7 linked regions of the Homo sapiens genome follow. The protein of the gene in region 6 interacts with the protein of the main gene of each other region in a pairwise test. Each region holds a gene or a part of one and is shown on either strand. Other genes may lie near its edges.

Region 1 (4,850 bases), on a different chromosome or scaffold from region 6:
GCAATTGTGCTGGGAGCTGGACTCAGTAGTGGGGGCTTCCATCAGAGAGGAGGCAGCACTGAGACCTGGGTAGGAAGCTGGGGTTTATTCTAAGCCTTTTTGAAAACCAAAGAAGGGTTTTAACCTAAGGATTGTCTTTTTTTTCTTTTTCTTTTTTTTGTTTGTAGACAGGGTCTTGCTCTGTCACCCAGGCTGGAGTGCAGTGGCACAATCTCAGCTCACTGCAACCTCCGCCTCCCGGGTTCAAGTGATTCTCCTGCCTCAGCCTCCTGAGTAGCTGGGATTGCAAATGCATGCCACCACGCCTGGCTAATTTTTGTATTTTTAGTAGAGACGGGGTTTCACCATGTTTGCCAGGCTGGTCTCGAACTCCTGTGCTCAAGCGATACGCCCCTCCTTGGCCTCCCAAAGTGTTGGGATTACAGGCGTGAGCCACCGAGCTGGGCCAGGCCCCAGGTATTGTCATGATGTAAAAATCTCTCTCTAGAAAAGAGAACACCAGCTTCCCAGCTGGTCTTCTGTAGCTAGGAGATGCAAGAGCAGCAGTTGAATTTGAGGTTTGCTTTGGAGAAAGAACCAAAAGCAGATATGGATGGTTTGGATGTGAGGGAGGGAAAGAGAATCCTAAGTGTATTAGTAGTGGTGGGAGGAGGTTCGGTACAGTGGTGTCATTTGGAAGACAAATCGTTGGTGTTTAACCTCTATGACCCGAAAGTCTCCCACAAGCCTGATACATTAGGCAAAATGTTTGACTGCACTAAGCCTTAGTTTATCGTCATAAAATAGGCCATGAAAATTGCGTGAGAAAATGTATATAACAGTTCAACAAATAATATTGGCTGGGTGTGGTGGCTCATGCCTGTAATCCCAGCACTTTGGGAGGCCAAGGTGGGCAGATCGCCTGAGGTCAGGAGTTCGAGACCAGACTGGCCAACATGGTGAGATCCCCCATCTCTACTAAAAAAATACAAAACACACTTGGGCAAACATGGTGAAACCCCATTTCTACTAAAAATAGAAAAATTAGCCAGGCGTGGTGGCGCGCGCCTATAATCCTAGCTGAGGCACGAGAATCGCTTGAATCCGGGAGGCGGAGGTTGCAGTGGGCTGAGATCACACCACTGCATTCCAGCCTGGGCGACAGAGCAAGACTCTGTCTCAAAAACAAAATACACACACAAAATATAATAGTATTTGTTTGTTTGTTTGTTTTTGAGATGCCTCGGATTACAGTGCGGGGATTACAGACGTGAGCCATCAAGCCCGGACAATATTATTATATTGTTCATTGCACTCCCACAACACCCCTAAGGGGCAGGAACTTTTCTTCCCAGCCCCCTCCCCCCGACCCCACCGAGAGACAGGGTCTCGCTCTGTCGCCCAGGCCTGGAGTGCATTGGCGCGATCAAAGCTCACTACAGCTCAGACCCTCTGGCCTCAAGCGATCCTCCAGCCTGGGCCTCCCAAAGCGCTAGGATTACAGGCGTGGGCCACCGCGCCTGACCAGTCTTCTCTTCTTGCAGCTGAGCCTTAAGAGCCTGTCCAAAGAGCAGAGGTGGGCTGAAGGCACAAAGCGAATGAAAGAATAGGCCCCCGGGCACCGTTGCACGCCCCACCTCCTCCCAGGGGCGTTGCACTCCAGCCCCTCCCGCACATGCGCACTGGGCCTTCCACCGCCCCCCGCCCCCAGCAAAGCCCCCCGCTCGGAGCATGCGCGGGCCGCTTGGCGCCAATTGCTGACCGCCACAGCCACAGCCAGGGCTAGCCTCGCCGGTTCCCGGGTGGCGCGCGTTCGCTGCCTCCTCAGCTCCAGGATGATCGGCCAGAAGACGCTCTACTCCTTTTTCTCCCCCAGCCCCGCCAGGAAGCGACACGCCCCCAGCCCCGAGCCGGCCGTCCAGGGGACCGGCGTGGCTGGGGTGCCTGAGGAAAGCGGAGATGCGGCGGTGAGGCGCGGCTTGGGCCGGGGCTAGGGGGTGAAGGGGGAGGAAGGCGGTGGGCCCCGCCTGACGGAGGGCGTGCAGGATCGCGCCTCTGACTCGGTAAACCCGGGCTCCGCTTTCCAAATAGCCTCCACGTGTTCAAAATAGCCGCCGCTGTCCCCCATGGGCCGCCATGCTAAAGGGCCAGCCAATGGGAACGCGTCTCGGGGCCCATGGCGCCAATCCGCGCGCCGCAGGCCCTCCTGGCTCGGTGCGCTGTCCAATCAGAGGGGAGAGGGGGCGGGACCCAGAGGGAGGTTTTTTGCCGCGAAAAGACCACGTGGGGACGCGGTGGGGCGGGTCTGGCGGGGGCGGGGCACCTCTGTGCAGGGTTCCCAGTCACCGCGACGCTCCTCGGGAAGCCATAGGGCGCCTCCCAGCCCGTCTCCCCGCTCCAGTTTAGAACCTAATTCCCAATTCCCGGACCGGGCCCAGCCCTGGGCTCTTACTGTCCGCTTTTGCTGGGACCTGTTCCACAAATGGGCGTCTTCTGCCTTGGGCCGTGGGGGTTGGGCCGGAAGCTGCGGACGCCTGGGAAGGGGCCGCTGCAGCTCTTGAGCCGCCTCTGCGGGGACCACTTGCAGGCCATCCCAGCCAAGAAGGCCCCGGCTGGGCAGGAGGAGCCTGGGACGCCGCCCTCCTCGCCGCTGAGTGCCGAGCAGTTGGACCGGATCCAGAGGAACAAGGCCGCGGCCCTGCTCAGACTCGCGGCCCGCAACGTGCCCGTGGGCTTTGGAGAGAGCTGGAAGAAGCACCTCAGCGGGGAGTTCGGGAAACCGTATTTTATCAAGGTAAATATGGAAATGCACCTTCCATAAGGGTAAATGTGGAGGCTGCCGGCCCTTTTGTCTTGTTAGTGTAGCCGGCCAAGTTCATGTTTCCGTAGGCTTAGGTTGTACCCCCTTCAACCTCCTTTACTCACAAAGGGGGTAAAAGAAAGCCATGATGTTTCACTCTGCAGCTTTATATTGGTTAAAGTTGTTAACGACCCGCGAGATGATATCATGGATTCATTTAAGTCACATAGTCTATTGTCCAGGAAAGGCTGGCGTAGTAAAATCACCAACCATCCTGAATGAAACCTGGCTTGAGCTTTAAAAAGCCGAGAGGAGTGGCACTGTCAGGACCCAGCCCAGAGAAAGAGGCAAGGAATTGACCTGATTGAACCACTTAGGTGGGGGGGCAGGCACTGTTTTTGTTTGTTGTTTTTTAAAAGAATTTGGACATAACATGACAAAGAACTAATGATGTTCCAAATAACTTGCACTAGAAGCTTTCTTATTGAATTCTTATGGTTTCCAATGAGAATCTGATTTTAAGTCTAGTTTATCTTTAAATCAGCTAATGGGATTTGTTGCAGAAGAAAGAAAGCATTACACTGTTTATCCACCCCCACACCAAGTCTTCACCTGGACCCAGATGTGTGACATAAAAGATGTAAGTACAACTTGTTGATAATTTTTATTGGGGAGAAGGAGTCAAATAGTATTTTTAAATTAGGGACACTGGAGTTAAGCCACAGTCCATCATTCAGTAGTAAATAAAACACTGAAATCCCGAGGTTTGGCTGACTGTATTTCAGCCTGTATTTACTCTTTTTAATGTTTACCACGTGGTATTTATGTGGCAAAAAGGAAAACTATGTACATCCTGTGCTCTTATTTCTTGTATTTTTTTTAAATCCTGAAACTAACCTCCCGCGGTGTCAGATGTTATGGTGGTGGTGAAGTTCAAACTGACACACAAAGCAGTTAAATCTTTTGCAGCTTGTTATAGTCAACCCCACCTTGACCTGACCACACTGCCTTATAGTTAGCACTTTCAAGCTCTTGACTTCTGGCCTGAACAGTTTTGTGGTTCTGTTATCAGATCCCTTTGCTTTAGTTTGTCTTATATAACAGTTGCTGGTTGGCGGCTCTCATCCATCTTGTGTTCAGAAGTTCGTGGGGCTGGGCACGGTGGCTCATGCCTGTAATCCCAGCACTTTCGGAGGCCAAAGTGGGAGGATCATTTGAGGTCAGGAGTTCAAGACCAATGAAACCTGGTCTCTCCTAAAATACAAAAATTAGCCGGGCATGGTGGCGCACGCCTGTAATTCCAGCTACTTGGGAGGCTGAGGTGGGAGAATCGCATGAGCCCAGGAGGCGGAGGTTGCAGTGAGCTGAGATCACACCACTTCACTCCAGCGTGGGCGACAGAGCCAGACCCTGTCTCAAAACAAAAAAAAAACCGTGGCTTCTCACTGTTGAACTATGAAAGCAGAGCAACCCTCTTTAAATAGGGCCACGTCCTACCTCTCAGCCTTACCTCCACCTCCCACTCTCCCACTCCAGAGTTGGACAGTGTGGCAAACCCCTCCCCACTTCTGTCTCTTAAAAATCAAGTAGATGCCTCTGTGGCACCTCCTTGAATTGAAGTCCGTTGCCTGCCACCTCTGTGATCCAGTTTTCCTCTGAGCTGCTACGATGCATTTAGCACCTGCTGACACTGGACTTTTAGGTTTCTTACCCGTTTTCCTCCCCCGTTTTGTAAACTGGGGCAAGAATCTTGTGATTTAATGAATATCTGTGAAATGACATAGAAGTGAAATAGGTGAATAAATCATCTTGATAAGGCAGCCACACCTAATACTTAGAAAATCTCGTAAGCTTAATTTTAGAGTAAGAATTTAGAATCTAGCTCTTTGGTTTTGAAGCTAAATTAAATCCTATTAAGATCAATACTAATTTGCTTCTTGTTTGAATGCCCTATTCTGAATACCAGTAATCAGTATAAACAGGGAATATTAAAAGGAATATTTTGAGGGAATGCTCAAAAACCAGTTTCAAACCTATGAGGATCAGATGGGCCAGCAGGGCTTCTTGACAG
Region 2 (3,761 bases), on a different chromosome or scaffold from region 6:
AAGAGTTGGGAGGGGCCCTGGAGCCTGGAGCCTGCCCACCCACCAGGCCTGTGTGCAGGGGGTGAGCGCTCGGTGGCTGAGGCTGGTCCGTGAGGGCCCCAAGTCTAACCCCATCTCCCGTCCTTGGCTCTGCAGCGCAGGACCAGGCCTGGGCAGGCGTGGTGGGGGGGCCTGCAGGTAGGTATCACCCACCCCTCAGAATGGCTCTCAGGCTCAGATTCACAGCCTCCCCATGGCAAATGGAGGCCTTCCAGGGTCCTGGACCCACCCCCAAGCTTGGGTAGGAGGGATCCCCCTCTTAATCTCACATTTACTTGTGTTTGAACATCTCAGAAAAAAAAAAAGATGCAAATTCCAATGTCAGGGTCCCCAAATCAAGTCTTCCTGGAGCATGTCCACGCTTGTCACCACCGTCTGTGGCTGCTTTCAAGCACGTCAGGGCTGCGTGCTCATAACAGAGACGGCACGGCCCCCAAGACCTAAAATACCACCAGCTGGCCCTTGTCGGAAAGTCCCCTGGCTGGCCCTAGTCCATTGACTCTGGGCCGAGCTGCCAGGGCCACAGAAGCCTGCGGCACTCAGGGCTCCCAGGGCTCCCTTCTCCAACAGTTGCTGTGCCTCCGTTTCCCCAAAATGCAAGGAGCTGATCTCATCTGTGTTCCCTATCTTTTCCTGGGGCTCTAAGTGGGCCACCCCAAGGGACCTCTGCCTACAAAGAGAGGAGTGACAGCCGTGGCGGAGTTGGGACGGGCTCCGAGGGCTCTTCCTCACCCGCACCTTGCTCACCCCTCTGTGCCTCATGACAGCTGGTGTAGGGTCCTGTGGAGACGCAGGACCAAGAGGATGTGTGGGGAGCGGGGAGAGAGAGGGAACGAGATCTGTGTTAAGGAACTGGATCATGAGATCACGGAGGCTGACAAACCCTGAGATCTGCAGGGTGAGGCGGCAGGCCGGAGACTGGAGAGCCAGCAGTTCAAGCCCCAAGGCAGGAAATTCCACCTTTGGTTCTATTCAGGCCTTCAACTGCTTGGGTGAGGCCCTCCACAGTAGCACACGTTATCTGCCTCTTGACTCTTGTGCTAATCCGGAATCCCCTCACACATGCCCAGAACGACGTGTGACCAATGCCTGGGCTCCCACGGCCCCGTTAATCTGTATTAAAATTAACCATCACAACAGCCCTGTCTGGGTATGTGGCATGGGAGCCTCGGCCAGCATTAACACCGGGTCTACGCTTGCCAGGAGAAAGCAGGAGGGGTGAAGACAGAATCAGGCCAGAGATGGAAGCTGTGTGCTGCCCATGGTGGCAAGGGGTTTTTGTCTGTTTTTAGAGACAGGGTCTTGCTCTGTTGCCGACTGGAGTGCAGTAGTGCCATCATAGCTCGCTGCAGCCTCGACCTGCTGTGCTCAACTGATCCTTCTGCCTCAGTCTCCCAAGTAGCTGGGACCACAAGCGTGTGCCACCATGCTCGACTAATTTATTTTTAAAAATATTCTGTAGAGACAGGGTCTCAATATGTTGCCCAGGCTGGTCCCAGACTTCCGGGCTTAAATGATCCTCCCACCTTGGCCTCCCACAGCGCTGGGATCACAGGTGTGAGCCACTGTGCCCGGCCCTGTAAGCGGGTTTGAATTTCATGCCCACACCGGCTCTGAAGTCATGAGTGCCTCAGGAGCTCAGCCGGTGGGCCAGGGAAGGGTGTGTCCTGACCTGCGGTGGGTGGAGCCTGGCCTGGGGCCCAGGGGACTCACGTGGTGGGTAGAACCTGGCCTGGGGGCTCATGGGGCTCATGTCAGAAGAACACTGGCTTGGCCAGGCACAGTGGCTCACGCCTGTAATCCCAGCACTTTGGGAGCCGAGGCAAGTGGATCACTTGAGGTCAGGAGTTCAAGGCCAGCCTGGCCAACATGGCAAAACCCCATCTCTACTAAAAATACAAAAATTAGCTGGGTGTGGTGATGTGCACCTGAAGTCCCAGATACTCGGGAGTCTGAGGCACGAGAATCACTTGAACCCAGGAGGTGGAGGTTGCAGTGAGCCAAGACTGCACCACTGCACTCCAGCCTAGGGGACAGAGTGAGGCCCTGTCTCAGAAAAAAAAAAAGGAACACAGCCTTCGCCGCTGGGCTCCAGCCACCCTGGGCCCCCATGGTGCACAGGTGCCCCAGGCCCTCAGGAGCCTCCTGCCCCGCAGCAGCCCACCCAGCCTCCCACGGCACCTGCAAACCCACTGCCTCGTTCTCCCCTCAGACCACAGCACCGGGAAGTCCAGTCAGCGGCAGATGGTGTTCGGGGTGGTCACCGCCATTGACTTGCTGAACTTCGTGGCCGCCCAGGAGCGGGACCAGAAGTGAAGTCCGGAGCGCTGGGCGGTGCGGAGCGGGCCCGCCACCCTTGCCCACTTCTCCTTCGCTTTCCTGAGCCCTAAACACACGCGTGATTGGTAACTGCCTGGCCTGGCACCGTTATCCCTGCACACGGCACAGAGCATCCGTCTCCCCTCGTTAACACATGGCTTCCTAAATGGCCCTGTTTACGGCCTATGAGATGAAATATGTGATTTTCTCTAATGTAACTTCCTCTTAGGATGTTTCACCAAGGAAATATTGAGAGAGAAGTCGGCCAGGTAGGATGAACACAGGCAATGACTGCGCAGAGTGGATTAAAGGCAAAAGAGAGAAGAGTCCAGGAAGGGGCGGGGAGAAGCCTGGGTGGCTCAGCATCCTCCACGGGCTGCGCCGTCTGCTCGGGGCTGAGCTGGCGGGAGCAGTTTGCGTGTTTGGGTTTTTTAATTGAGATGAAATTCAAATAACCTAAAAATCAATCACTTGAAAGTGAACAATCAGCGGCATTTAGTACATCCAGAAAGTTGTGTAGGCACCACCTCTGTCACGTTCTGGAACATTCTGTCATCACCCCGTGAAGCAATCATTTCCCCTCCCGTCTTCCTCCTCCCCTGGCAACTGCTGATCGACTTTGTGTCTCTGTTGTCTAAAATAGGTTTTCCCTGTTCTGGACATTTCATATAAATGGAATCACACAATTGTGGCCTCGTGTCTAACTTATTTCACTTTGCATGGTATTTTCAGGCATGTCAGAGCACGTGTACTTGGTTTCTTTTTGTGGCCGAATAATAAGCCATTGTGTGGATAGACCACATTTTGGTTCCTCATTTATCGGTGATGGACACCTGGTTGTTTCTGCTTTTCAGCCCTTGTGAGTAACCTGCTGTGCACCTTCATGGCCGAGTATGTCTGGACACCTCTTTTCACTTTTCTTGGGTGTGTACCCAGGAGTGGCATTGCTGGTTAATGTGGTAACTCCATGTTTAATTTTTTTTTTTTTTTTTTTTTGAGATGGAGTCTTGCTCTGTTGCCAGGCTGGAGTACAATGGCACAATCTCGGCTCACTGCAACCTCCACCTCCTGGGTTCAAGCGATTCTCCTGCCTCAGCCTCCCGAGTAGCCAGGATTACAAGTGTGCACCACTGTGCCTGGCTAATTTTTGTATTTTTGTAGAGACAGGGTTTTACCATGTTGGCCAGGCTGGTCTTGAACTCCTGACCTCAGGTGATCCACCTGCCTCAGCCTCCCAAAGTGCTGGGATGACAGGCGTGAGCCACTGCGCCCGGCGTCCATGTTTATTTTTTGAGGAACCATCAAGCTGTGTTCCATACTGGTCACACCGATTTCCATTCTCACCAACAGTGCCCGAGGGTTCCAGTTTCTCCAGGTCCTTATCAACACTTGCTATTTTCTTG
Region 3 (4,188 bases), on a different chromosome or scaffold from region 6:
AACCATTTCATCCCAAAACCATCCACCCTGCTACTCCCAGACCGTGGAAAAATTGTCTTCCACAAAACTGGTTCCTGCTGCCAAAAAGGTTGGGACCACTGCCTTAGAGTTTATAATTTGGGGTTAGCACAGCCTATATTTACCTGAGAATTTCAATGGGTTCACTGATCTTTCCAAATGAAAAGGCTTCTTACGAAAATTATATCCAAACTGTCTTTTCTCTTAGTTTAATAAACCTATCAGTAAGTTTTTACTGAGTACTGCTATTACATTTTTCTCTGTTAAGCATTATGGGGGCTCAGACATGATCCATTCCCTCAAAGAACTTACCTTTCAGCTGAAGACTGACTAGAATGAGCAAATACGGTTAACAATTAACAAGTGAGTAGGCCAGCTCGGCCAACATGGTGAAACCCTGTCTCTACTAAAAATACAAAAATTAGCCGGGCATGGTGGTGGGCGCCTGTAATCCCAGCTACCTCCTGCTGAGGCAGGAGAATTGCTTGAACCCAGGAGGTGGAGATTGCAGTGAGCCGAGATTGCACCATTGCACTCCAGCCTGGGCGACAGAGCAAGACTCTGTCTTGGGAAAAAAACAAAACAAAACAAGTGAGAAGGGAATCAAGTACTACGTAAGATGTAATGTGGAATTTTAGGGAAGGAAGGCAGTGTATGCTGGAGTAATTAGAGAAAGGGGCATGCATGATTTGATGCTTGAACTGGATCATGAAGGATAAGCAAGATTTTGGCAGCAAGTGAGAGGGAGAGAGGAGTTTGTCAGAGGAATGGAACAAGTCAGGAGGCAGTAATGTGTACGGCACTCCAAGGACTCTGTCCTGATCGGAGCAGAAGTGATGAAGCATTGAGTAGTTTGAGAAAGTTAGCTAAGAAGGGTGAGGGCAGATGTTGGAGAGAGTTGAGTATCAGAGAGAAGACATTAGATTTGAGCAGATAGAACAAAAATGCCATTGCCAGTTTTTGTGTAAGAGAATAGTATTAGGGTGGTTACCCAGGAAGTGGTCATCAGAGTTGAATGGAGCAGAAAGAGTGTCTGATACAGCATCGGGACGTTGTGGTCACAAAATGAGGTGGTGAGGGCTGAGCCAAGATGGTGGCAGTGGGATGGATAAAAAGGGATGGCCAGGACAAATATTTTAAAGGAAAAATTAACAGGACATCTTTACTGACTGGATTGGAAGGCTATGCAGGAAATATATTGTCAAACTTGATTCCAGGATTTCTATCCTATGCCTGGGTTGCCCAAAATATCAGGGAACCATTGTTAGAAAAGGTAGGAGATACCACTGTTCCAACAAAAAGTATTGAGTTTGGTGTTGCACCCACTTAACTTCAAGGCCTTACAAGTGAGTAGACAGTTAGTTAGAATTGCAGAAGTGCCACTCAGAGAGCAGGGCTTGCAATGTGGGGTTGGACTTTGTCACCATTGTGTTAATTCCTAATTCTATGCAGATGCTCAGCTTGAGGAATACCCATGTTTGGGCTTCAGAATGAAAGCCAAGTAATATTTACTCAGATGCCAATTTTCCCTCTGAAATATTTGCTCATGGAACTGAGAGAACAATATATAAAGCATTAATTATTTTTCTCATAAAGTTATTAATAAAAAGATAAGATCAGTGAAAGGCAGAGTAAACTAGAAGCCAAGTATAGAAAATGGTATCATTCAAAGACTCATTACTGTAGTGGTGAAAACAAAACAATTTTCCAACAGCTTAAGATGCCTCAGTATTTTGGACCATTTTTAAGTAGTTAGTGTGGGCACTTAGTAAATATGTATTAAACTATAGTTCATTAATTCTTTTTTTTTTTTTTTTGAGATGGAGTTTCACTCTGGTCACCCAGGCTGCATTTTTGCTTTCTTAGTGATATATAAAATGTCGAGTTTCACAATGATGGTATCTTAGATTTGATTAAATATGGTATTAAAAAATAGCTGATCACAGAAAGTCTCTACCAGTGTGATGTAGATGGCTAAAGTATTCCACATTTGCAAACTTTTATTGACCTAAATAAGAGGTGCCCCTTGGGTTGTTTTTATTTGGACTGGGAATATTAGGAGAAAGCTTTTTCATTCAGTGTGTAAGTACAATCTACCAGAAATAGAAACCCCCATGGACGATCTATTTCTTTGATGGTACAGGACTCAGAACATTCACAAAGATTTAGTTGTTAGCGGAATAGACATCTGTATTTTATTCAAACCAATTTTCCCTTCCTAATCTGAGAACATTGTGCAATCTAAGCAGTTCTAAGCATGTTTGCTATTCGTGCAAAGTGAGAGTAAATCTAAAAGAAATTTTTTTGTGTGTTTAGGGATGGTAATAAAGTCTCTTAGTGGTTGAAAATGTTATTTCTTACAAAAGTGGAGAACATTTGCTTTTCAATACCAGAGTTTTCAGCCATTTCTGCATTCTGACCTATTGACTGGAGGTAGGTTGCCTTTGAATTCAGTAAAACTTCATGGGCAGAAACACAGTTCCTTTTCCTACTTATTTGGATATCATGATGGCCATTGCATGTATGTGTCTTTTTGTAAGTCCATGCCTCAGAACTGAGAAGTAGGAATAAAATTAGGGTCAGGGCTGGGGATGCTACTCTTTGCTGCTGAGAAACACAATGCTTCAGGTAAGTGATTCTGAAGTCCTTCACCACCTGACGGTAACCTTGGGTTGGTCCATAGGTATGTTTTCATTTTGCTTGTTCATCCATTTTAATTGGCTTCCTAGAGCATGCTTGTAGATGTAGAGCCAAATTTAGAGTAGAGCAACCCTCTGGCAAACAGGAAGAGATTAATTTTGTGGTATGCTTTTAAGGGACTTCCCAGGAAACTTCAAAAGCAGAAAAAGAAGCACTAGCTGCCTATTCCAAAATGTGTAAAACACCACTCAGCTTTTTAAAAGTAGGATAAACTCAGAGCGCGCGCACACGCGCGCGCGCACACACACACACACACACAGAGAGAACATCTCTAGTAAAAAGAAAAGTTGAGCTTTCTTAGCTAGATGTGTGTATTAGCCAGAAAAAGCCAAGGAGTGAAGGGTTTTAGAGAACTGGAGGAGATAAAGTGGAGTCTGCATATGGGAGGCATTTGAAATGGACTTAAATGTCTTTTTAATGCTGACTTTTTCAGTTTTCTCCTTACCAGACACATTGTTTTCATGACATTAGCCCCAGGCATAGACACATCATTAAAATGAACATGTCAAAAAATGATTTCTGTTTAGAAATAAGCAAAACATTTTCAGTTGTGACCACCCAGGTGTAGAATAAAGAACAGTGGAATTGGGAGCCCTGAGTTCTAACATAAACTTTCTTCATGACATAAGGCAAGTCTTCTATGGCCTTTGGTTTCCTTACCTGTAAAACAGGATGGCTCAATGAAATTATCTTTCTTCTTTGCTATAATAGAGTATCTCTGTGGGAAGAGGAAAAAAAAAGTCAATTTAAAGGCTCCTTATAGTTCCCCAACTGCTGTTTTATTGTGCTATTCATGCCTAGACATCACATAGCTAGAAAGGCCCATCAGACCCCTCAGGCCACTGCTGTTCCTGTCACACATTCCTGCAAAGGACCATGTTGCTAACTTGAAAAAAATTACTATTAATTACACTTGCAGTTGTTGCTTAGTAACATTTATGATTTTGTGTTTCTCGTGACAGCATGAGCAGAGATCATTAAAAATTAAACTTACAAAGCTGCTAAAGTGGGAAGAAGGAGAACTTGAAGCCACAATTTTTGCACTTGCTTAGAAGCCATCTAATCTCAGGTTTATATGCTAGATCTTGGGGGAAACACTGCATGTCTCTGGTTTATATTAAACCACATACAGCACACTACTGACACTGATTTGTGTCTGGTGCAGCTGGAGTTTATCACCAAGACATAAAAAAACCTTGACCCTGCAGAATGGCCTGGAATTACAATCAGATGGGCCACATGGCATCCCGGTGAAAGAAAGCCCTAACCAGTTTTCTGTCTTGTTTCTGCTTTCTCCCTACAGTTCCACCAGGTGAGAAGAGTGATGACCATCCTTTTCCTTACTATGGTTATTTCATACTTTGGTTGCATGAAGGCTGCCCCCATGAAAGAAGCAAACATCCGAGGACAAGGTGGCTTGGCCTACCCAGGTGTGCGGACCCATGGGACTCTGGAGAGCGTGAATGGGCC
Region 4 (4,188 bases), on a different chromosome or scaffold from region 6:
CAAGACCAGCCAGGGCAATATGGTGAAACCCTATATCTACCAAAAAAATACAAAAATTAGTGGTGTGTGCCTGTGGTCCCAGTTACTGAGGAGGCTGAGGTTGGAGGATCACCTGAGCCCAGGGAGGTTGAGGCTACAGTGAGCTGTGATCATGCCAGTGTCCTCTAGCCTGGGCGACAGAGTGAGACCCTATTTCAAAAAAAAATAAAAAGCTCCTGAAGTCACCATACATGAACAATGATCCTGTATCATTTGAGAACACAAGTGGTATTCTGTATACTCTCCTTACTAAGTTTGGGAGGTATACCATACCTTTAGGAAGGCGTCCATTCATTAGAGGAAAAGAAGAGTAGTTCATTAAGACCTGATTGGTTAAATGGAGATATTGCCATATAAAGAGAAATGCTTTAGAAGAAAGTTGGGTGTTTCCATTTATTCCCTTGTTAGCAAGTTCAGTGGCATTGTGGTTGAAATTTTTGATAGGTGTGAAAGATGAAGGGCTGATTGTGCTTTATGAATCTGTCCTGTGAGTGTGAATTTTCATTTTCTGCTCTGACAGTGCCTGTCTTTCCCTCTAGGTGTGTGGGAATGCCCTCATGAAGCAATACCAGGTTCAGTTCTGGAAGATGCTAATTCTCATCAAAGAGGACTACTTTCCCAGGTATCAGGCTTGTTGAGCAGACAGCAGGGGATTAAGTAACTCATAACCAGGCCTCAGATACCCAAGGGTGCTATTACCTGCTGGTTTTGATTCAAGTTAAAAACACCTGTACTAAGTATGACATCTTTCCTACTCCAGTCCCTCTCGTTGATATTTGAATAAATGCTTTTGAACCTTAATGAGAGTCTGTCTTAAATATCATTGCCCAAACAAAAACACAAATTAGGGGCTGAGCACAGTGGCTTATGCCTATAATTATGCCTATAATTGCAGCTCTTTGGGAGGCCACAGGAGGAGGATCACTTGAGCCCAGGTGTTCAAAACCAGCCTGGGCAATATAGCAAGACCCCATCTCTACAAAAAAAAAATTAGCCAGGCATGATGGCATGCATCTATAGTCCCAGCTACTAGGGAAGCTGAGACAGGAGGATCGCTTGAGCCCAAGAGTTCAAGGCCTCGGTGAGCTATGATCGCACCACCGCGCTGCACTCCAGCCTAGGTGACAGAGTGAGACACCGTTTCCAAAAGATAGGTGTATATCATAGGTGTGATTCATGTGTCTTTCTCTCCCTGTAGAATTGAAGCTATCACAAGCTCAGGACAGATGGGCTCCTTCATACGCCTCAAGCAGTTCTTGGAGGTAAGATGCCCTTAGACCAACATGCCCCACACTGTTGTTGGGCTGGAATGCACCTATGTCTGACAAGTCTTGGACCTTCCGATGCTCTGATTGCACTCTCTTCCTTAGTTCTTCCAAACCCTTCTTTTTGTTCCTAATTCCCTCTTAACCTTTGGAGTAAGGGCTGCCATTTCCTCTTCTTTATATGTATCATTCTCTATACTGCCTGTGAGAAAGCTATGCTGAGATGAGTAAAATATATTTAGTGTATCTCCTCTCATTAATATATATTTTTTTTGCATGTTGGCCAAGGTTATTTTCTTAGTCTCAGGTCTGGGGAATTGGTAAGTGTCATCACTTTTCTCCATGAGATCAAACTGCACTTTCAGTTGGACTCTTCCCCTACTTCCAAGTGCCAAGAGATTGTAAAAGGTTAATTTTGACAAAGAATTTAGAACACTATAGTGGGTTTGCCAAGATAGCCTGCTGACTTTTCAGCTTCTCAAAGCTCGATTGTGAAAATAGTGATTGTGAAAGATGAGGTTAGCCTGTAGGGAGACAAGAGTGGGACAGGAATAATAAGAGCATTTCATTTGTTGTCTGGAGCAGATCATGCAGAAGTGGACATCTTATACAGAACCATCAGTCTTACTGGCTTTTTCCTTTTTGTTCACTGTTCCATAGGGCTGAAATATGGTGTTCCTCAAAGCTTCTTTTAACCATTAAGTGTTGGGAACACTGTTATCAGAAACTCATTCTGTTTTCTTCATCTTTCCCTGACCAGAAATGTTTGCAACACAAGGACATTCCTGTCCCCAAGGGCTTTCTGACTTCCTCCTTCTGGCGCTCCTGATGTCACTCCATCACCCACCATCACCGCTGCTGCAAAGAGGCAATAATAAAGGAACTGAAGACAGCTGTATTTGGGAGAAGTCATGTCAGATTCAGAAATTTGCCATTATGTATTTTTATGTATTTATGCCTTGTGACTAGGAGAGGAGATTTTCATGGGTCACAAAATTCTTGGAGGTCCCTTAGTAGATTTGGTAGTTCCTTAAGAGATCCACGTGATAAAATAAATGGAGTTGGCCTTTCTTGTTTTTTGCAAAAGTGATAAAAGGTCTTTAGCACTTGGTCTCCTCCCTTGTCTCTAGTGTCTTTCAGAAAGTTGGCAATACCTTAACAAATGCACTCTGAGCTGGAGGGAGCCCACCATTTGCACCCACCTACCCACCCTCACCCCTGTTCAGATGAATTTCCAGAAAGAGCTAAGGCTCATAAGGTTCCCTTTTAAGTATTATTTAATAGTTGAGGCCAGATACTTACATGCAAGTCTGGGTTATGGTTGTTTTGCCTTTCTCAGCTTGTGAAGTCATTCTAAAGCTAGAGGAAGTATGTGATATACACATGGACTAAGGCTCAGGTGACACTATGGCTAGATTAACATCTGGGATTAGGACTGGAAACACATGTCATTTTGAACTAAGGGAAACTCTTTGTCATCCTAATTTGGAATTTGGTCCCTGGATGGCTAGGGATCCATGAACCAGGCAGGTACCTTTTTTGTTTTTGTTTTGTTTTGTTTCTTTTCTGTTTGAATTAAGATGGGCTAAGATGGGGCTTGCAACATTAAACATGAGCTGAGCATCCATAAGCATTGAATTGGGATTAAATAAAGATGTTGGGCAGGAACTGAACACTGCTAATATGATGATAAATATGCCTGACTAAAGCCACTACAGAAATCCAGAGATTGGCTGTTAAAATTTGTTTTGTGGAAAGACTAATTCTCTTTGATACTGCAGAGGCAGTGGCCATGGATCTGTTCCTCTGTGCTAAATGTCTTGTGGCAGGGTGTGTTTGTGGGGGAGTGTTCACTGGTACTCTTGAGTGGCCTGAAGTGACCCATTCTATGAATTGTTAATTAAGGTGCCAAAAAAAATTAATAATAAAGCTTGGTTTTTTGAAAAACCCATTGCTGATATATTGGTTCAATATGATCAATTTCCTCTGCCTTGAGCTATGTAAATCATGATAGTATACAAGTCCAGGTATAGAGCGGTATGCATTTATTCCTTTTGGTCTTCTTGACCTACACCTTGGGAATATTACTTCTTTTTCTGTCATTTCCTTTTTTGGAATTATGTACTAATAACTGACCCTATTTTATCTAGCAAGAGATGTGAAAGTGTATTAAAATCTTTGAAAGACACAATAGGCCGTGCTTAGTGGCTCATGCCTGCAGTCCCAACACTTTGGGAGGCTGAGGTGGGAGGATTGTTTAAGTCCAGGAGTTCAAGACCAGCCTGGGCAACATAGTGAGACCCCCATGTCTAAAACAAATTTTTTTGGCCAGGCGCGGTGGCTCACGTCTTACCAGCCTGGCCAACATGGCAAAACCCTGTCTCCACTAAAATTACAAAAATTAGCTGGGCATGGTGGTGTGTGCCTGTAATCCCAGCTACCCAAGAGGCGGCTGGGGCAGGAGAATTGCTGGAACCCAGGAGGCAGAGGCTGCAGTGAGCCGAGATCACTCCAGCCTGGGCGACAGAGTAAGACTCTGTCTCAAAAAAAAAAAAAATTTTTTTTTAAATTTTTCAGGCATGGTGGCACATGTCTGTAGTCCCAGCTACTCAGGAGGCTAAGGTGGGCAGATCACTTGAGCTTGGGAGGTCGAGGCTGCAGCGAGCTGTGATCATGCCACTGCACTCCAGCCTGGGTGACAGAGCAAGACCCTGTCTCAAAAAAATAAATAAATAAATAAGGTAGACACAATGGAATGAACACTGGGGACGGAGTCAGGAGACCCCGGCTCAAATCACTTTTAGGTTTTTTGGCCTTGGGAAGGTCCTTCACCCGCTCTGAACCTCAGTATCCCCACCTGTAAAACAAAAGAACTGGACATGTC
Region 5 (4,865 bases), on a different chromosome or scaffold from region 6:
GGGTTCGAGACCAGCTTGGTCAACATGATGAAACCCCGTCTCTACTAAAAATACAAAAATTAGCCTGGCATGGTGGTGCGTGCCTGTAATCCCAGCTACTCGGGTGGCTGAGGCAGGAGAATCGCTTGAACCCGGGAGGCTGAGGCTGCAGTGAGCCAAGATCTCACCATTGCACTCCAGCCTGTGTGACACAGACTCTGTCTCAAACAACAACAACAAAAACAACACCGTTTATCATCTTTCTCTCCCGCAGGCTGGCTGAAGGCTCTGAGGGAGGCCCTGGCCACCTTTCCCAGCCCTGTGGAGGCCGCCAGCCATCCCTGCCATTTCTCGTCTGGTGGCAGCACATCTCATCTCTGCCGCCATCTCCACATGGCCTTTTTCTCTCCGCGTGTCTGTGTCCACGTCTCTCTTCTTATAAAGACTGGACAGGATTTTTTTTTTTTTTTTTTTTTTTCTGGAGACAGTCTCGCTCAGTCGCACAGGCTGGAGGACAGTGGCGCGATCCCGGCCTCCAATGCCACCTTCCAGAGCCTTCATGATGTAACTCCATCCCTGTCCCCTCCCCACATCGCCGGCTTTATTGTTCTTCGTGTCAGTTCCTGCCAGTGGACATTTAATTCTAATTCACGTCTCACTCCCTCCCCTACTGTGAGCCCCACGTGGCAGAGACCGCGGCGGAGCTGCGCGGGCCGGAGGAGGCTGCGGAACATCGCTCTGACCTGAGCCGGGGACGCTGCGGAGGCGCAGCACGTTCCTCTGCCCAGAGCTGATGGGCACCGTCCGTGTCTTTCGCTGCAGGTCCGGGGGGAGACTCGGGGGCCTGGGATCCCCCATTTAGCCATAGGGCGGGGGGATCAGGTTCAGCCTCTGAAAGTCCAGAGCACGATGTTTGGGAAACGGCCCCGCCCGCGGCCTCCGGGACCTGGCGAAGGAGCCCCGCGGGGCGCCCCTGCTACCACCCTGCGCGGAGTCGGCCCCGTCCCCGAGAGCGCCCGGCAGCCCCTGGCCGTGGGCCGCACCGGAGCCGCGCAAGGCGACTGTTCTGCGCCTCGGCTCGGGGTTCGGACCCGGCTCTGGGCGCGGTCACGCGGGGCGCTGCGCACGGCGTCCGGCGGCCACAGAGCGCGGCCATCGAGTCCCGCCCCGGCGCGGCGCCCCCTCCCGGGCCCGCGACACACGCCCTCGGGGTCGGTCCTCGAGGACGCGCAGGGCCCCCCACCCACCAGGACGCACGTTTCAAGCTCATCAGTAAAGGTTCCTTAAATTCCCGAAGGGCAAGAAGTTAACCAAGTAAAACAGCATCGGAACACCAGGTAGAAGACACCACCGGGGTCCGCGGGTGGGGGTGGCTGGAACCCGGGGCGGGCGGGCTCAGGCGAAGAGGAAGGCGGGGGAGGGGGCGGCGACCCGGGTCTGCGGTTGAATCAACAGGGCGTGGGAATGGGGCGGGCGGACTGGGGTGGGGGCATGCCGGGGTCCCGGGGAGGGCGGGGGTCGGGCAGGCCGGAGGGTCCCAGGCTGCGGCGGGGTGGGGAAGGGGTGGGGGGGAGGGGCCCGGGCTGGGTGGGGTGGAGGAGGGGCTGGGCGGGCGGGTGCTCTGCCACGAGACATTGGCCGGCGCCGGCCTCCGCCCCCGCCTCTCCGCCAATCACCGCCCGCCTGCTCCCCTCGCCGTGGGTCCCCGCGAGGCCGCCACCCCGGGGTCGCCGTCTCCGCCTCGCCGCAGTCGGGGCAGCCGCTCGCCCCTCTTTTCCATGTATCCGTCCAGGTGAGATCCGGCCCCACCGAGACTCGCTCCCCTCTCTGGACAGAGGATCTCAACTGGGTCCCGGTTTCCCTCTCCGCGCCTCCGCCCAGAGTTGCATCATCTGCACCGAAAGGCGGCGAGACAGGGTCTCCCAAGACCCCCGCCCCACCGGCGCCCACGCCTGCGGTCTTGACCGCCCAGAAGATGGGGGCTGGCCGTGCACGTGGCCCCGGGCTCCCACCCCAGCCCCCGCGCCGGCGGAGTGGACCCCACTGGCGGCGAGTCCTGGAGCGTGGAGCAGGGACGCGGGGTGGGAATCCGGGGGAGATGCACGTTTCGGTGCCCAGCATTGAGTTCGCTGCATTGTGGATGGGAAATGGCTGTTTGCAAATCGCCCTTTTTGGCGGACCGTGTGGGGTGGCGGTAAACGCTGTCGTTGCGCGGGCGGCACGCGAGGTGGGTGCCCGCTGGGGGAGGGACGCGGGGCTCTGCCCAGGTTGCGTTCGGGGGATGGAGGTTTTCCTGGGACCTCACTTCCCTGAGCCCCAGGCGAGACCGCAGCTGAGCTGTAGGATGCAAGCGGGAGGCGGAGCGTGGGTGGGAGAGCGGAGCGCGAAATTCTCGGCTTCCCGAGGATCTTCTGGGCTTACTTGTCCCCAGCTTTGTCCCAAAGTGTCGCTTCCGGAGGCGGAGTGGCCGGCGGTTTCCGGGTCTCAGTAGGGTCTGGATCTCCCACCTGGAAACCTAGAGGAGTTTCCCGCTCTCCGTGCGCGTGGCCTTCCCCAGGCCCCTCCGGGAGTGCTGGCGCGCGAGTGCAGGGGTGCCCCGGGAACGTCGTGACCCCAAGGGGGTCTTGTGGTTTAAGGAGCGAACGGAACCGGCCAGGCGATGCCAGCTGAACCCGCCTTCCCGGGACGCACGTGCATCCGGCCGCCCGGCGCTGTTGTCTTGGGGAGCCCGCGGGTTCGGGTCTGGGTCGCCTGGCGAGCTTTCCGCCGAGCGCCTCTGAGTTCTACAGAGCCCCGACGGCTTGCGATCTGCGTTCCCGGCAGTCCCTTACCTTGCGAGAGAGGGCTCCAGGGCGAGGCGAGGGGCCAAAAGCAAGGCGCTGGGCCGCCTGCGTCTGCCGGGGCCTCGGGTCCACGGCTTTCTGGAAGATTCGGCGGCGGAGCATGCGCGCCCCAGGCCAGACAGGGCCTGTGCCAGACGGAGAGTCCCTTCCCGTAGGTGACTCCCGCGACCCGCGGAGGAAGGTGCTGCTCCGCTCACGGCGGCGGCTTCTTACAAGGTTGGGATAGAAAGAAAAGCGTGGGACACGAACCTCTGAAAGCGGGTGCATTTTTCTGGGGAAGAGAAGATCCAACGCCTTCGGATTTTCAGACAAGTCCGTGGTCCCAAGACCTTGAAAGCACCACCCTCCAGGGTCGTTTGAAGCCGCTTTGGCCCCCAGTCTGGTGAATTGCAAAGGTGGAGGGGAGGCTGGGAAGTCCAGGAGGCCAAGCTGAGGCCTGGGTAGGGCCTGTGCGCAGAGACCACCTGAACAGCATACTCCAAGGGCTTCCAAAGGCAGCCGGCTTCCGCAACTTTTTCTTTTTTAATAGGCTTTTTAAAAAAAAAGCAGTTTTAGGCCGGGCGGGGTGGCTCACTCCTATAATCCCAGCACTTTGAGAGGCTAGGCGGGCGAATCACCTGAGGTCAGGAGTTCGAGACCAGCCTGGCCAACATGGTGAAACTTCGTCTCTACTAAAAATACAAAAATTAGCCGGATGTGGTGGCGGGCGTCTGTAATCCTACTCAGGAGGCTGAGACAGGAGAACTGCTTGAACCCGGGAGGTGGAGGTTGCAGTGAGCCGAGATCGCACCACTGCTCCAGCCTGGGCAACAAGAGGGAGACTCCGTCTCGAAAATTTAAAAAAGAGCAGTTTTAGATTTAGAAAAATTGAAAAAATAGATAGAGTTCCCCCAGTTTCCCCTGTTATTAAGATCTTAAACTGATGTCGTATATTTGTTACTTTATTTATTTTCTTTTATTTTTATTTTTATTTTTATTTTTTGAGACGGAGTCTCGCTCTGTTGCCAGGCTGGAGTGCAGTGGCGCGATCTCGGCTCACTGACCTCCCCCTCCCGGGTTCAAGCGATTCTCCTGCCTCAGCTTCCCGAGTAGCTGGGACTACAGGTGTGCGCCACCATGCTTGGCTAATTTTTGTAGTTTTAGTAGAAACGGGGTTTCACCATGTTGGCCAGGATGGTCTCGATCTCTTGACCTCATGATCCGCCCGCCTCGGCCTCCCAAAGTGCTGGGATTACAGGCGTGAGCCACCGCGCCCGGCCTATTTGTTACAATTAATGAGCCAATTCCACGATCACATAACCATTGTTGACATTAACCAAAGTCCGCGCTTGAGTCAGATTTGCAGAGTTTTCTCCTCACTGCCCTTTTCTATTCCAGGATCCCATGACAGATTCTGTTGTCACGTCTCCTTACAGAGTTTGAGCGGTGCTGAACTGTCAGCACCATCTGTCCGGTGAGTGACGGCTGTGGACTTAGTCTTCCTGTTGAATGTGGGGAATCAAAGGAGGGTGAAGCGGGGCTGAGCCCAGTCCTGGGCCCTCTGAAGAAGGCAAGGTGGGAGGTGGTCGTGGGTTCCTTGTCCCCCCAGAGGAGGGGCAGCAGATGGGACCTCGCCTGGCTTTCTTTTTGCTTTCTTCTTTTTTTTTTCTGTCTCATCTATTTCAGGTGCGTGTGTGTGTTTTTAATCCTGGGTAAAATACACGTAACACTGATCACTGTAACCATTTCTAAGTGTGAGGCAACCACCGTGACTATCTCCACCCAGAACGTTTTCATCATCCCCAGCACAACCTCTGCACCCATTAAACAATCACCCTCCCTTCCCCACTCACCTCAGCCGCTGGCCGCTTCTATTCTACTTTCTATCTCTATGAATTTGCCAGACATAGAGGGGCGTTCGAGAGTCCCAGGTGCCTCATCGTGGAAGTGGAATCACACAGTATTTGTCCTTTTGTGTCTGGCTCATTTCGCTTGGCATAATGTCCTGAAGGTTCGTCCGTGTTGTAGCGTGTGCCAGAATTCATTTCTCTTAGGGCTGAGTAA
Region 6 (4,188 bases):
GAGAATGTGTGGAGTAGAAAGAGCAGAAAGGGCAGAGAGCAAGCCCAGGAACAGAGGAGGAGTCAGGCCCAGAATGGGAGAGGAGCCTGCGGAGTACTAGACCAGCTTCAGAGTTGAGCAACATAAAGAACAAAAAATGCAGTTGGATTTAGCACTGAAGATATCTGAACCTGCCCAAAGCAGCATCAGGAGAACTAGAGGGGGAGAAGTCTAGAAATCTGTTGCTCCCCAGCCAGGGTAAAAACACATATCAAAGCCTGTAGAACATACAACCATGAAGGACTCTTGCGGTTTTTCATGGGCACAGGCCATGGAATCTTAGAGATCATGTAGTCAACATGTTCATTTTACTCGTGAGGAAAAATGAAGTTAAATGAAGAGGTTAAGCAACTTGTCCAAGATGGCAAAGTCACCAGGTTTCACACCTCTCAGCCCAGGTGTGTGGTGTGGTTAAGAGCATGGGGTTGGGGCCGGGCACGGGGGCTCACGCCTGTAATCCCAGCACTTTGGGAAGCCAAGGCAGGTGGATCACCTGAGGTCAGGAGTTCAAGACCAGCCTGGCCAACACGGCGAAACCTTGTCTCTACTAAAAATACAAAAATTAGCCCGGTGTGGTGGCACAGGCCTGTAATCCCAGCTACTTGGGAGCCTGAGGCAGGCGAATCGCTTGAGCCTGGGAGGCAGAGGTTGCAGTGAGCTGAGATTGTGCCACTGCATTCCATCCTGGGCGAGAGAGTGAGGCTCTGTCTCAAAACAAAAGAAAACAAAACAAAAGCATGAGGTTGGGGTAGGGTCCGGGTTTGACCCTTTCCAGCTGTGTGGGCTGGGCCAAGTTACCTGGTCTCTCTGTGACTCCTTTTCTTCATCTTTAAATGGAGATAGTAGTTCCTGCCTCAGAGGGTTGCTGTGAGGATTCAGTGAGTTAATACATGTCAAATATTCAGAACAGTGTCCTACACATAGGAAAAGCTATGTGTTTGCTGCTGTTGTTAATCCATATGTATGTGTGTATGTGTATATATACACATATGACATACATGCTTTAGGGAAGGGATGATGACAATATATTGTGTGTATGTAAGGAAACTTTGAATATTTTAGAAAGAGATTTGGGTGATTGTCGGTTCTGAATCAAAAATTGTTAGAAAAGTTGGGAAATTTACTTACATGGTATGATTGAAAACAGCATTTTTAGTAAGAAATGCAGCACCTTCATTCTTGAGAACGGAAAACATGAAAGCATTCTGACGTTAACCCTGTAAAAGGGTTTCTTTTAGTCAGATAACCAGAATTTTAACCTATTTACAATGGAAATCCCTCGAGTTTGACTTCAGAATGTCATTGTGACTTTTCTAAAGGTAGAATGAACTATAAAGTAAGAAAAAACTATGGGTTATGACTTTCACACATTTGGCTCCTATGAAAAAAGAGTGATTTGTGTTATTTAGAGGACTATAATAATTTTTTTAGTGTTTCTAGTTGAGCAAATCTAATTTTTAGCTACTAAAACACATGAGAAGCCTGAATGGTATTATCCAAATGGACTTGGGTGACATGCAATATAGACAACTTAGGAATAAGTGACACTGTGGACTTGATTAGAACGCAGTAATCCTGGAAGAATATAAATTGAATTGGATTTATGGTCTAATAAAAACGTGGGAGGAAAAGATAATGCTTACTGACTCATGAAACTTTAACAATGTTTGTAAGACTCCGAGTTGTTGTAATATTTGGTTGAGAGCGCTTTCCCATTTGTCTCAGCCTGCTTCCAGAACAGCCTGCTGTGCACCTCCGTCTGGAAGTGAAGCCTGACTTGGGTCTCCTTCTTGGGTATACTTAGGAAGCAGAGATCATCACATACTCTGCCCTTGTAAACCCATGACCTCGAGCAGCACTTGGTTGGTTTAGGCAAATATGTATTGAGTACCTATTAACTGTAAGAGTTTGGGGGAGAAAAAAGTACCATGGGAAAGTCCTAGCTCATTGCTTATTTGCACTCAGAAAGCTTTTTTAGAGGACTACTTGTTTCTGGCCTTGTATTCTCCTTTCTGTGATACTGCAAAAAAGTAGAGAGCATACCACAGCTACCTACTCCTCCCTGAATACACCATAGAAATAATAGCACCTGCCATTTTATTGAACTCGGAGGCATGTGTTAGGTGCTTACATACAGTCATGTACTTAATCATAGCAACTCTAGGAGGCATGTATTATTATACCCATTAGTCAAATGGGGAGACTGAAGCTCAGAGAGGCAAATGGCTCATGGTCACACAGCTAATAACTAGTGAAGCCAGGTCTGTGTGACTGCTAAACTCTTTCCTGCTTTTGCTCCAGAGCTGTGGTTCCTCATTCCCTGCCTCCTTGCCTTTGCTTTGCAGTTACTTCTGTGTCCTGTGTTGCAGGATGCAGAGGCACCTTTACCCACCGTGGAAGTCTCACCCTTTCTGATGACTCCCCTCAAAACCTACTGCCTCTTGAGAAGCCCTCCCATCTCTCTTACCTCTGGGCTCCCAGAGCACCTGATTACCACCTCATCATCATCCTCATCATAGCCTGATTCGTAAGGCTGAGGGAACCAGCTGGGTAGGACAGTGGGGCAGGCACTGGCCTTTCCCACCGACTTGTGAGCTCTTTGGAAGTCAGGGACTCTATTTTATGATTGATTTGTCAACATAACACCCAGCACAATTCTAGGAGGTACTACCATTATTATCCCATTTAAAAGATGGAAAAACTGAGTCACAGAGGCTAAGTGATTTAGTCAGCGTCACAGAGTAAGTGACAGAGCTGGGATCTGAACACAGCAGTCTGGCTCCAACATCTATGTTCTTCACACTAAATTTGCGCCATCTCTTTAATGAGATTGTAAACTGTGAGGGTGGAGGTGGTGCCCAGCAGCTCCCAGCCTAGTATCTCACAGACTCTGCACAGTAAACATCAGCCCTTTTGTTCTCCTGTCCACCCCAGCAGAGTGACAAACAGAATATATTGAACCAGGTCTTATCGCATAATAAGAAAAGAGCACAAATATGCTGAAGATCTCATAGAATGCATATCCCCAGGCCTCATTTGGATTCAGTGGGTATGGGCCAGGCAGGGCTGAACGCTTCTCATCTTTTCTGTATCTGGGAACAACAGTGAGAAGGGAAGAGTCAGCAGGCAGCTCTGGAAGACAAGGAAGGAAGCAAACATAGGGAGTCCCAACTAGAGTAGTGGGAGCAGGCGGAGAAGTGGTAGAAACCATCAGTCAGCAAGAGTCAGAGAGTGCCGAAGCTTGAGAGGGGCCCGGGATCATAAATCCGCACAGAAAGACCTCTTAACTTGTAATTTAAAGGTTTCTAAGTACCTGTGCCTTTTGAATATGCTGGTGGGATTTTATCTGATGAAGTCAAACACTTTCATTTTCTTCAGAGCTTCCATCTTTGAGGTATCCAAAAATAGTAGGCTTTTCATGGAGTTGTATAAGGATTCCATCTGCTTTATATTGAAAAGTAGGGCTTTAATGGAAAATTAAAAATGAGCCAGATCTCCTTTCCCACAACAAAGCCCAGGGCACTTTTCCCAATCCTTTCTTCTTTTAATCCCCAGAAAGTTACTGAATCTGTATTTCTGTGAAATCCTGCCCAATTTAAATTCTACTGAAAAGGCAAATAAACACCAACAACTTCATTTCCACACAAATGTCATGTCTATTTAGAAGCAATAACAATTTCAAATGTTGTCACTTGTGAAATTTGATTTTTGTTTTAATTTTATTTTTTTGTTATTCTAGAGATTGTGTGATGTATTGCCTGTACCTAGGCACATACATGCACATAAGGATATTTTAAGAAGCGCTGATTTCTGTTAATGGTTTCTCTAGTTGCTGTCTGAGTTTGAAGGGTATCACCTTTTATTGTCTAGTTTGGCTTCACTCTCATATTTCCTAGATTGAGTGAGGAGGTATTGATCCATGTCACTGTGGATGTGCCGGCTAATGTAGATACTGGTTCTTGGATCCTGTCCCTTTACTAAACAGCCCAGTGAATGGAGGCAGAATGACCAGGTTCCTTAGCCTGGCCTTCAGTGCCTTCTGTAGTATCTACGTTCTTCCTTAGTCATCCTGGCTCACCTCATTTAGCAGATGCTAATGCTTGGTTAGCCAGAAGCCCATTACCATCTCGTTAATTGGCAATATGGCTC
Region 7 (4,188 bases), on a different chromosome or scaffold from region 6:
CTGGTTCATGTAAGATACCATAAAAGGGCTTCAAAGGTAGATATTTAAACAGATTTATAAAATACAACATCAATGTTTTTCTTAATATGGCTACTCTCCTTTCTTTCCTGTAACATACCCATAATACGTTTATGCTGTTGAATAGTTATACCTTTTACCCCAAAGTGAACTTTATTACATAGACATTTTTATTACATACAGTTTAATGCTTTTCCTCATAAACATCCACTGAGTACTTACTGTGTCAAAAACTTTCAAAATTTTAATATATAAGATGAACACAGCTATGATCCCGACTTCCAAAGATTTCAGAGTACTCTCACAGATTCATTAATAAATTAGGACCTTCAGCTTGTTTTCTCTTTATTGATCAATACCATGAATCCTTCATCTGCACATACCTGACTTCTTTTCTTCATTGTTGTCTCTCTCACCATTATCACGGTGCACAAATTCATCCCCGTCACTTTCTCCATCTGATTTGTCGGTGTCACTGTCATCAGTACTGTCATCATGCTTATCTTGATCCATGTCCTCAGGATAGCCATCATCTTCACTGGTGCTAGAAACATCATCATCATGACCTCGCTGGGCTGAAAAGTGGGAAGGGAACATGGAGAAGTAGTATGATTGGACCCTCCACTACATGGTACCCAGAAATACAGAAAATTATGCTATTCAACTCAGACTGTAACAACTTAATTCTTACCAAAAAAAAAAAAAAAAAATTCTTGTATATATAGCTACTCATACAGTCTAACAAAATTTTCCTCTGCCAATAATTTTAAACACTTCTTTTTGGTAATTTAAGATTTTTTTAAAAAGAGTTCTAATTTGAAAACCCATTTCCTCCTTTAGCAACAATCATGTTTGTATACACATACACAGTCAGTGAATGTATACAATGACGCTCTAGTCTGATGACAATAAAGCTAAAAGGGAACCAGATATACAAGTCTTAAAGGATTAGCAGCAAGAGTGACATCTCCAGGAAAAGCCTAATTTAAAACACGATAAACATTTCTATACTTATGTATGATGCTTTTACTTGAGAAGATCCTATGATTTATCCAACTGTATGTATATTAGTTATGTACATGATACCCTCTCATTTACTTTCTAAGTTCTGAGGGTGGTGAACAATATGTTAAACAGGGCCAACATAAAAAATGATAGTTATAAAAGCAAAAGAACAGTCACTTCTCACCAAGTTCAGGACTATATAACATGTCTTCATCTCGCCTACGAGGGGGAAGATCTAGGGCAAAACCCACTTTACGGCCATACATCTGCACGACTTGAGGAGGAGGTGGACCAGGGGGAGGGCCAGGAGGTTTTCTGCCAGGGGGCAAACGTGGAACACCATGTCCAAGAAGAGGAAGGATAGAAACTGCCCGAGTTGGAGGTCTGTTAAAAAAAAAAACAAAAACAAAAAAACCCCCACAGTAATCACTTAACAGTAATGAGATATTTATTTTCTCTTCTAAACAATTTTCAAGGGATTTCTTATTTTACATTTAATCAAATGTCACACTGTTTACATCCATATTGTCTTTTATTTCCCTCTGCATTAATTTTGGCACTGGACAGTCAACTTGTGCCTTTACTAAATGCTCTCTGATTGTGACACTGCTTCCTTACCCATAGGCTGAGGTTTTCTTTAGGATAGAGGGTGGCTGGGCACCAGGAAGTGGAATGTCCTGGATCAAAATGTTGGAAGGAGCATGTGGCATATCTGGCAAAGGAATACTCTCCACTTCCACATGCTGAGCATTCTGAAACAGAGAACCATTCAGTAGTATGATAAAAAAGTCATCTACTAACTAAACACTAAAAATGACAAGTCAGCTGTTTCGTAACTTGGACATGCTTTCCAACTAACATAAATATCACCAAAAACCCCCAGAAAAATAACCTTACGTCAATACTTCCACATTGTCAAAGAACTGAAAGAAATCTTTACTTCTAAAAACGTCAGAACCCAGCTGTTTTTTTTCTCCTCTTATCAGGTAATTCTTTTTGGATGATTCGAAACAGCTGTTGTCTAGAGAAAGCCAACTGTTACAAGTATCTAGCACCAGAACTACCCTATTTAACATGTGATAGAAAAATACATGTCAGGCTGGGCGTGGTAGCTCACACCTGTAATCCGAGCATTTTGGGAGGCTGACGCAGGTCGATCACAAGCTCAGGAGTTTGAGACCAGCCTGGCCAATATGGTGAAACTCCATCTCTAATAAAACTACAAAAATTAGCCAGTTGTGGTGGCGTGTGCCTGTAGTCCCAGCTACTCAGGAGGCTGAGGGAGGAGAATTGCTTGAACCTGGGAGGCAGAGGTTGCAGTGAGCCAAGATGGTGCCACTGCACTCCAGCTTGGGCAACAGAGTGAGACTCGGTCTCAAAAACAAAAAATAAACAAAAAAAAGAAAAATAATATATGTCAACTAACAAATAGTATATATCCAGTGGTGGAGGTTGGGCTCATTAGCTTGCCTATGTTGAATTTCTGTTGTGTATTAGCTTAGTTTGACTAAGCAAGGTAACCTGTGCCTTCATCTGTAAAATGGGAGACATATTACCTCCTTTACAGAAATTATAGCATTTGATTTTTTCCCATCTTTATTTTGAGGTAAAATTTACGAAATTTACAAATTCAGTAAGTTTTGACAAATGCATATACCTCATACTCCTTCCCAATCCATCTCTAATATCATCCCCCAAGGCAACCACGGCTACATTTTTTTTTCCTGCACAGATTATCTGTGACTATTCTAGAATTTCATAAAAATGAAATCATAACAATGAGATAAACTTAGCATGTTTTTGAGATTTACTCACAATTTTTCTTTTTTTATTCCATGCTGTTTTGAGTATTAGATTATTCCTTTTATTGCTGAATAGTATTCTATTGTATAAATATGCTACAGTTTAATTATCCATTATCCTATTAGTGAACACTTAGGCTGATCCAAGTTTTTGAATTAATTTCTTCTGTTTAAATAAAGAGGATTAGATTTGCAGGTTCACACAGTAGGTATATGTTTAGTTTTAGAAGAAACTGCTATAAGGAAGAGGTTCAACATGACATTCTCCCATTAACTTTTTAAATCTAAGTATAGGCTGAGCATCCCTAATCTGAATATCTAAAATGCTCCAAAATCCTAAACTTTTTGACTCCCATATGATGCCATGGTGGAAAAATCCACACCTGACCTAATGTGATGGGTCGTAGTTTTGTTTCATGCACAAAATTTATAAAATTATCTTCAGGCTATGTGTATATGAAACATAAATTTCATGCTTAGACTAGGGTTCCATCCCCAAAATATATGCAAATATACACAAAAACAAAACAAAATATAAAAAAAACCCAACAACCCTAAATCCAAAACACTTCTGGTCCCAAGCACTTTGCATAAGGGATACTCAATCTGTATAATATTTTAGTTTATCTCTCAAAAAAAAAACCTTGATTACCTTGACAGCATCAAAATATTGGCTAAGTTGAGCCCTCTTCTGTTCATATTCTACTTCTAGCTTTCTCAATTCTTTGTAAATATCTGGATTCTCTTTTTCATAGAGTCGTAGAATACGTTCAAAGGTTTCACGCAGCTTTTTACGCTTGTCTTTCAGTACTTTCTCATTTAATTGTGGCTGTTGCACTGGGTTAAACTCTAAGAGAAAAAGTAGATTATGGAATTAAATATAAGAGGCCACTTCAATTAGGTATCAATAGGTTACATGATAAAAACCTCCATATATGCTAAAAAATTTTTAAGAGATCTAGACACCAGACATACTCTTTTCAATTTTATTCGAAGAACTACAATATTTATTAAAATCCCCACCCTTTTTAGATGGCCACTAATTTTACCTTTCTCAGAAATGCCACCTAATTGACTTTCATCTTCATTGTAATAAAAATCAATTTTCACTGCTCTGTGCTGAAAACCTCGTGAAGATTCTGTCAGATTTGTGTTTACCTACTACGTTAGTCCTGTCAAATTTTGAGATCTTAAGCATTTTACTTGAATTCTCTGATTTTTTGCTTCCTCATCTAAAAAATGGAGACGTTAATCACTTTGTAATAAAGCTATGATGATACAATGGGATTACAAATAAAATATCCAGTGGTGTTTGACTCACCACTTAACTATAATCTTTATAACAGATCCGTATTCCTGGCCT

The links.
Region 1: the proteins of FYN (region 6) and UNG interact in binary tests that used the Homo sapiens proteins (3 or more experiments, as listed by UniProt).
Region 2: the proteins of FYN (region 6) and CBS interact in binary tests that used the Homo sapiens proteins (3 or more experiments, as listed by UniProt).
Region 3: the proteins of FYN (region 6) and BDNF interact in binary tests that used the Homo sapiens proteins (3 or more experiments, as listed by UniProt).
Region 4: the proteins of FYN (region 6) and GLE1 interact in binary tests that used the Homo sapiens proteins (3 or more experiments, as listed by UniProt).
Region 5: the proteins of FYN (region 6) and cystathionine beta-synthase interact in binary tests that used the Homo sapiens proteins (3 or more experiments, as listed by UniProt).
Region 7: the proteins of FYN (region 6) and WBP11 interact in binary tests that used the Homo sapiens proteins (3 or more experiments, as listed by UniProt).

Annotation. Positions count from the first base shown.
Region 1 is NC_000012.12:109,095,866-109,100,715, forward strand, and holds the start of UNG (uracil-DNA glycosylase), read left to right. Parts: upstream 1-1,731; 5' UTR 1,732-1,814; coding exon 1,815-1,946; intron 1,947-2,306; exon of another isoform or gene 2,307-2,461; coding exon of another isoform or gene 2,462-2,566; coding exon 2,567-2,773; intron 2,774-3,323; coding exon 3,324-3,419; intron 3,420-4,850. UniProt on the Homo sapiens protein: Uracil-DNA glycosylase that hydrolyzes the N-glycosidic bond between uracil and deoxyribose in single- and double-stranded DNA (ssDNA and dsDNA) to release a free uracil residue and form an abasic (apurinic/apyrimidinic; AP) site.
Region 2 is NC_000021.9:43,052,474-43,056,234, reverse strand, and holds the end of CBS (cystathionine beta-synthase), read left to right. Parts: intron 1-135; coding exon of another isoform or gene 136-177; intron 178-2,251; coding exon 2,252-2,355; 3' UTR 2,356-3,044; downstream 3,045-3,761. UniProt on the Homo sapiens protein: Hydro-lyase catalyzing the first step of the transsulfuration pathway, where the hydroxyl group of L-serine is displaced by L-homocysteine in a beta-replacement reaction to form L-cystathionine, the precursor of L-cysteine.
Region 3 is NC_000011.10:27,658,419-27,662,606, reverse strand, and holds part of BDNF (neurotrophic factor BDNF precursor form isoform a preproprotein), read left to right. Parts: intron 1-2,334; exon of another isoform or gene 2,335-2,451; intron 2,452-2,948; exon of another isoform or gene 2,949-4,021; coding exon of another isoform or gene 4,022-4,042; coding exon 4,043-4,188. UniProt on the Homo sapiens protein: Important signaling molecule that activates signaling cascades downstream of NTRK2. During development, promotes the survival and differentiation of selected neuronal populations of the peripheral and central nervous systems.
Region 4 is NC_000009.12:128,539,038-128,543,225, forward strand, and holds the end of GLE1 (mRNA export factor GLE1), read left to right. Parts: intron 1-578; coding exon 579-661; coding exon of another isoform or gene 662-677; exon of another isoform or gene 678-840; intron 841-1,237; coding exon 1,238-1,301; intron 1,302-2,064; coding exon 2,065-2,133; 3' UTR 2,134-3,251; downstream 3,252-4,188. UniProt on the Homo sapiens protein: Required for the export of mRNAs containing poly(A) tails from the nucleus into the cytoplasm. May be involved in the terminal step of the mRNA transport through the nuclear pore complex (NPC).
Region 5 is NC_000021.9:6,464,354-6,469,218, reverse strand, and holds the start of cystathionine beta-synthase, read left to right. Parts: upstream 1-1,705; 5' UTR 1,706-1,771; exon of another isoform or gene 1,772-3,038; intron 3,039-4,199; 5' UTR 4,200-4,275; intron 4,276-4,865. UniProt on the Homo sapiens protein: Hydro-lyase catalyzing the first step of the transsulfuration pathway, where the hydroxyl group of L-serine is displaced by L-homocysteine in a beta-replacement reaction to form L-cystathionine, the precursor of L-cysteine.
Region 6 is NC_000006.12:111,862,922-111,867,109, reverse strand, and holds part of FYN (tyrosine-protein kinase Fyn), read left to right. Parts: intron 1-4,188. UniProt on the Homo sapiens protein: Non-receptor tyrosine-protein kinase that plays a role in many biological processes including regulation of cell growth and survival, cell adhesion, integrin-mediated signaling, cytoskeletal remodeling, cell motility, immune response and axon guidance.
Region 7 is NC_000012.12:14,793,330-14,797,517, forward strand, and holds part of WBP11 (WW domain-binding protein 11), read right to left. Parts: intron 3,675-4,188; coding exon 3,478-3,674; intron 1,776-3,477; coding exon 1,642-1,775; intron 1,408-1,641; coding exon 1,208-1,407; intron 594-1,207; coding exon 402-593; intron 1-401. UniProt on the Homo sapiens protein: Activates pre-mRNA splicing. May inhibit PP1 phosphatase activity.